2 linked regions of the Homo sapiens genome follow. The protein of the gene in region 1 purifies or fractionates together with the protein of each later gene. This does not show direct contact. Each region holds a gene or a part of one and is shown in the gene's direction. Other genes may lie near its edges.

The links. The genes of interacting proteins can lie anywhere in the genome.
Region 2: the proteins of CDKL1 (region 1) and EDIL3 purify together in Homo sapiens (affinity purification with mass spectrometry; one large-scale study listed by BioGRID and IntAct). This does not show direct contact.

What each region holds. Positions count from the first base shown.
Region 1 is NC_000014.9:50,386,882-50,390,381, reverse strand, and holds part of CDKL1 (cyclin-dependent kinase-like 1), read left to right. Parts: intron 1-3,500.
Region 2 is NC_000005.10:84,063,381-84,066,880, reverse strand, and holds part of EDIL3 (EGF-like repeat and discoidin I-like domain-containing protein 3 isoform 1 precursor), read left to right. Parts: intron 1-274; coding exon 275-430; intron 431-2,036; coding exon 2,037-2,181; intron 2,182-3,500. UniProt on the Homo sapiens protein: Promotes adhesion of endothelial cells through interaction with the alpha-v/beta-3 integrin receptor. Inhibits formation of vascular-like structures. May be involved in regulation of vascular morphogenesis of remodeling in embryonic development.

The sequences.
Region 1 (3,500 bases):
TCTGCCAGCAGTGGCAGAAAAAGTAGATGCTCCTAGCGGAGTTGGAGGTCAAGGACAGGACAGTGTCACTGTGGGATCCCTGGGCAGACGTTCTACCTATGGCAGGTGGTATGGGGGCGTTAAAATATATTAGACCAGCATTGGTCAAGGGCTGAAAGCAGCAGCTGGGACATTGTCTATGACATGTCTCCCTCCAGAAAACAAGAAAAACAAGTGAGACAAAGAGAAGGAATCATCTACTGCTATGTGGCAGGTAGGGGCAAGGGACCTAGTAAATTTGGACAAACTGCCAAGTATCATTGTTACTTAGGATGCACAAATTACACTAATAACAACCTTAGAAGGTAGATATCGTTACACTAATAACAACCTTAGAAGGTAGATATTGTTATCCCATTTTACAAATGGATTCAGTATGGTTAATGATTTGCCAAGGCCTCCCGGTCAGTAAGCTGGAATGCAGACACAGTTCTGTCTGTCCCCAAGTTCATGCCATGTGGTTTCCCCATACCAGAACCATCCATCACTTTATACCAAACACCATACTCTGAAGTCTCCCAATGACTGGTCGTCAGAATTTATACTGCCCGTTCTCCCGCAGGGCCTTAGCTGTGAGATTTGTGGCTTCTGTGGAGGCCTGAGTGCAGATTGTAGCTGAACAGCCGTTCTTTCCATATCTCATTCCATAACCCTATGGACTATTTTAGAAGGCTAAAATAGCCTTCTAAACCTTTGTACAAACCTTTGTAGGTTTGCCACCTACAAAGATGAGAATAAGTGTGAGGGGAAATGTCCATTTGAAAATTAATTATAAATATCACAACGTAATGCAGAGATTCATAATGAGAACAAGGTCACTCCTAAAGGGTGAAAATTGGTTCTTGGCAGGTGGCAAAAAAATCTAACTTTTTTATTGTTTAAAGCACAGATATACATATGGTTCATATACAGATATATAGTATATTTGTGATATTAAAATTTCATTGGTAAGTGATTAGAAAAAATGTGTAAAATGACTCTTTGAGGGAGAGAAATGAAAAAAGGTGCATGGGGTGTGGGCGAGTGGCACTGTTGAGTGTATCCTAGGTGCCAGAAGTAGGCTCTCATTTGATTTTAATTCATCGTGAATAGTAACCTGCAGAATGTCCAGAGCATCCCTTTTTTCCCTGCTGTCCCCTTTGATCAGTAGCCTTATAGAAGGGACAGGGGCATGGGGACAGGAGCTACAGTTAGAGACTTCAGTTTTCTTTTCTCTCTCTTTTTTTTTTTTTTTTTTTTTTTTTTGAAGACAGTCTCACTCTGCTGCCCAGGCTGGAGTGCAATAGCGCAATCTCGGCTCACTGCAACCTCTGCCTCCTGGGTTCAAGCGATTATCCTGCCTTAGCCTCCCCCAGTAGATAGGACTACAGGGGCGTGCCACCACACCCAGCTAATTTTTGTATTTTCAGTAGAGACAGGGTTTCACTGTGTTGTCCGGGCTGGTCTCAAACTCCTGATCTCATGATCCGCCTCCCTCGGCCTCCCTAAGTACAGGGATTACAGGCATGAGCCACCACACCCAGCTATGGAACTTCAGTTTCTGATCATGCTTGAAGCTGTGGAGTGACCTTGGGCAAGCTCTGGTGCTTCCTGGAGCCTGGCGTGCCTTATCGCTATGATTTATGTCCCTGTTTGGCATTGCTTTGCTGATTTTTTGCTGAGGAGGGCAGAGGGCTCTTGGGCCAAACATCTAACAGCGGTCAAGCAGCCTCAAGGATGCAAGAGCAGGAAAGTAGAGGGTCAAAGGGAGTAAACATAGAAGAGGAAAGCACAGACAGAAGGGCAGAAGGTGGGATTTTAACATAGTGCTGTGGCCAACGGCCAACGGAGGCGCTGGAGGCAAAAGCTCTTCACACAGTCCCCCAAGAGGCTCACTGTCTTCAAAGAGCAGACCAGAAGTCCTGCTGGGCACATTACCATCATGGTGACAGGCACATGCTTTAAGAAGTAGGACTGTCAAGGTTGCCTGTTATCCAAAGCATTTATTAAGTGCTTAACTGAATGTGCTCTGTGCAGTGCCACATCCACTAAATGCTAAGAGTACCATGTAAATGCTCCCTAGCATTAGAATCTAATTAGAACTTTCATAGTTGGAAGGGCTTCTGCTCTTCAAATATTAGTTGAAGGAGTGTTTCCTCACTCAGTAAAAACCTCAGCCAGCTGCAGTGGCTCATGCCTGTGATCCCAGCACTTTGGAAGGCTGAGGCAGGTGGATCACGAGGTCAGGAGTTTGAGACCAGCCTGGCCAACATCCCCGTCTCTACTAAAGATACAAAAAATTAGCCAGGTGTGGTGGCGGGCACCTGTAACCACAGCTACTTGGGAGGCTGAGGCAGGAGAATCGCTTGAACCCGGGAGGTGGAGGTGGCGGTGAGTCGAGATAGAGCCATTGTGCTCCAGCCTGGGCGACAGGGCAAGACTCTGTCTCAAAAAAACAAAACAAACAAACAAACACCTCAGTGGAAAATCCTGTGACATCTTTAAGAATTTCATCCTGCTTTTGCTAATAGGGGTCATTCTAGGCTCCCTCTCTTCAAATTGTTTAATTGGCTTGTTGAGGTGAATTAATAACATATGTCTATTAATTGTTTTAGCTGAGTTCAGCATTTTCTGTTATGGATTATGGATTAACAAACCCAAATGTCTGTGGAATCACACTGTTAACATAAATGAGGGAAGCAGTCTGAATATAGGGCAAGATGGAGAGGTGGAGACTGGGGCAAACTGGGGTCCTCATGTCTGATCTAAAGTGGACAGCTACTGCTCAGTGCCACAGACTGCAAGCCTAAGGTGCTGGGTTTTCAGTCTTTTTTTTTTTTGAGATGGAGTCTTGGTCTTGTCACCCAGGCTGGAGTGTAATGATATGATCTGGGCTCACTGCAACCTCTGCCTCCCAGGCTCAAGCGATTCTCCTGCCTCAGCCTCCTGAGTAGCTGGGATTACAGGTGCCCACTACCATGCCTAACTAATTTCTTGTATTTTTAGTAGAGACGGGGTTTCACCATGTTGGACAGGCTGGTTGTGAACTCCTGACTTCAGGTGATCCACCTGCCTCGGCCTCCCAAAGTGCTGGGATTACAGGCATGAGTCACCGCATCAGGCCCACCACCCCCACCCCCATTTTTTTTTTTTTTTTAAGACAGGGTCTCAGTCTGTTGCCCAGGCTGGAGTGCAGTGGGGCAATGATGGCTCACCGCAGCCTCAATCTCCAGGGCTCAGGTGATCCTCCCACCTCAGCCTCCTGAATAGCTGGGACTACAGGCATGCATCACCACACTAGGCTAATTCTTTGTATTCTTTTTTTTTTTTTCTTTTTGAGACGGAGTCTCGCTCTGTCTTCCAGGCTGGAATACAGTGGCGCGATCTTGGCTTACTGCAACCTCCACCTCCCAGATTCAAGTGATTCTCCTGCCTCAGTCTCTTGAGCAGCTGGGATTATAGGTGCATGCCACCACACCTGG
Region 2 (3,500 bases), on another chromosome or scaffold:
CAGATGCTTTCTATACTTATGTTTTTGGGGCACATTGCCCTTTTCAAAGCCTGTTCACAAATATTTGTTTACTTAAAAATAGTATTCCATTACAGAAAGGGATTTTGAAGCTAAATTTAATATATGCCTATTGTAAACATTTATCCATGAAAATTATTAGCTTTTTATGTTATTATTAATCTGCATTAACAATGTTTCATTTCTAAAATTCGTATTTTCAGTATTGTTATCCTGAAAACAATAAGATTATTGTTGGTTGTGCTCGTCTTTTCAGATAAATTTGCAAAGGAAAATGAGAGTTACTGGTGTGATTACCCAAGGAGCCAAGAGGATTGGAAGCCCAGAGTATATAAAATCCTACAAAATTGCCTACAGTAATGATGGAAAGACTTGGGCAATGTACAAAGTGAAAGGCACCAATGAAGACATGGTAAGAATAATTTAACCTACTTAATTTAAAAGAAAAATGTCATTGATAATTATTGATTATCAAATGACAAGGTCTTCAGGAGAAGACTTATGTTGATGAAAATAAATTACCAATGCGTCTTGTTTTTAATTGGGCTAGTGTGATGAAGGAAGTAGTAATTCTCCAGTTTATAAACTTAAAATGGCTGACATTTAAGATTTTCACAGATTTTAATTGGTGGTGCTACAAATACTTTGACACAGGTGGACACAGTCTTTTGTATGACAATTAAGCTTTATTTTAATGATACATTTTTATTGCTTTCGTGATTAACGCACTTTTTTTTTTTTTTTTTTTGAGACAAAGTCTCACTCTGTTGCCCAGGCTGGAGTGCAGTGGCGCGATCTCGGCTCACTATAAACTCTGCCTCCCAGGTTCACCCCATTCTCCTGCCTCAGCCTTCTGAGTAGCTGGGACTACAGGTGCCCACCACCACGCCCGGCTAATTTTTTGTATTTTTAGTAGAGATGGGGTTTCACCGTGTTAGCCAGGATGATCTCGATCTCCTGACCTCCTTATCCACCGGTCTCAGCCTCCCAAAGTGCTGGGATTACAGGCGTGAGCCACCGCGCCCGGCTGATTAACGCACTCCTTAATGAGATAACTATTATATTAATGAAAACTATTTTCTTAAAAGCAAAAAAGCACTAAGTGATAGAAGAGATATATATCTTTATATGCTTCATATTGGAAGAAAGATTTGTTACTTAGCAAAATAAAATATTTTAGAGGTATTGAATATTATATTCAATACTTCCTTTTCTTTTCTTATGATATTCTCAATTCTTTTGTTAGTTCTTCATCGAAAATTTTAATTTTAAAAATATCAGGACTGGAGATCATTCCATTTAATCAGGCATTATACCAGACTCTAATAAATTATATAAAATATTTTTAAAATTACCCCCTTAAATGAATTTAAATAAGGTTTTTGGATTATCAGGTTTACATAAAAGGTAAAATAAGAATAAGCCTTAATGAATTTACAATGACACATTATAGTACTTGAATTTTAGAGGCAAACATAGTTTTTAGCTGGAAATTTTAATAAGGAATTCTATTATCCAAGTACATGGGACTGGTTGATGAAGACATAATCTTCATGAGTCAAACCTTAAAGCATCATAAATCTAATCATAGCATTAGAGAGACTGGATGATCCGGAAGCAGTAGCAAAGACTGGATTCTACCCCCAAAAGTATGAATACTAAGTAGGAAAATGAGCAGACAGTCCCAGATTAAATTGAAGGATTTAAGGTGTCCATTTCTCAAAAAAAGAGAAGAGCGCTGCCCTGGTTCTGAAAGACTGGCCTTAAAATTGACAAGACCATCACAGTGGAATATAGATCATGTCATGAGCCACAGTGGTTTATGGCTTTAATTAGGAGTTTATGGTTGGGTTTTATATTCAGTGCTCATGGCAAGGCACTTCTCAAATGCTCCATGCTCCCAAATAATGTAATCTGTTCTTCGAACAATTATTTTCGATAAGGTATAGATAGGGTAAATATGTAAAAATAGGTAAATAAGCTGTTGCAGTGAATAATTTTAAACTGTTTTTACACAGGTGTTTCGTGGAAACATTGATAACAACACTCCATATGCTAACTCTTTCACACCCCCCATAAAAGCTCAGTATGTAAGACTCTATCCCCAAGTTTGTCGAAGACATTGCACTTTGCGAATGGAACTTCTTGGCTGTGAACTGTCGGGTAAGTCTCAAATTAACTATTTCTGTATTCTATTTAAAGAAAACAAAAAGCATATTTGTATGTAGCCTGTTACTAACCTACAAATTCAACAACCATAGAAATTTTTTTCTGGGGAAAAATGTCTACAACATGGTTCAGGGAAAACCAGTGTGTGTTTATGTATAGAATAAACAAGTTCTAAAACATGCTACAGGGTAGAATTAATGTAGAAAGAGTAATGTGTTTTGTTGAGTGGTCAAAGAAAGCACAGGGAATTCTCACGGGAAAATTGTCACTTTTAAATGTGTCTCATTGTTTTGCATAATAACTGTGATCTATGTTTTCCGACAAAAAGTTTAGTAAAAACTGGAATCTGTCCCACCTCATAAATTGCAGTAAAGGTTAAGCTATGTAACACAGAAAAGTAAGCTTTATCTTTGTCCATCTATCATAAGAACTTTATCTTTGTCTGTCTACCATAAGAACTTTTTTTTAGGTTTTATGAAACATTTAATTTCTCATTCCTCAATACTTCAATACCAAGATTGCTAATATAAATTCATTCTTGGATCATTCTTAGCTAGCAACCTGTTTATTGTAAAAATAGTGGTTATCCAACTCAAGGATAACCTATCAAAGGACTCAGAGTTAAATAATTCTTGTCCCCCAGGAACATCAATATTAGCTATAAAGATGAGGACTTAATGTGTGAATCTTACAGTGGCCCCATTTCAATATAGCTAGATTCTGAATGAAATAGAAAATTGTATCTAGGCATTTCACTTGTTATATTTTTGGTAGTTGTTCTTACATTTCTGGCATCACAATTTACAAACTATCTTTGCTGCAGTGGCCTGAAATTATTTTGTTCAAATAACTGTGAAGAAAACTAAAAGTGCGTGTGTGCTCCGCTTTTTAGTGTAACCCTGAAGTGAGGAAAAACCTTTACCAAATCTAAAACAATACCACTTAATTAAAAATAGGAGAACAAGTCCCTGCAAAGAGACAACTGTGAGCTTTTTATTCATTTCAAGAGGTTGCCTATAGGTTAAAGCGCATACTTTATATCTGTTTCTCTTCCTAAATTTATTTGTGTTGCCTAAAAAAGGATTGATTTTCAAGCAAATAAAATTTACTATTAAATAGCCAATTTTTAATAAGCCCAATACATTTTAAGAATTAAAGTAATTTGTACAGTCAAGTGAGCCTATTTTAAGAATCACATTTTCATATTCTATGTTGGTGTATTTTTTGAAGCAACCAACATTTGCTTTAGTACCATTAATTTTCCTAACAGAGATATTTTCCTTATTTTGGCAATTTAATCCAGTTTGTTTACT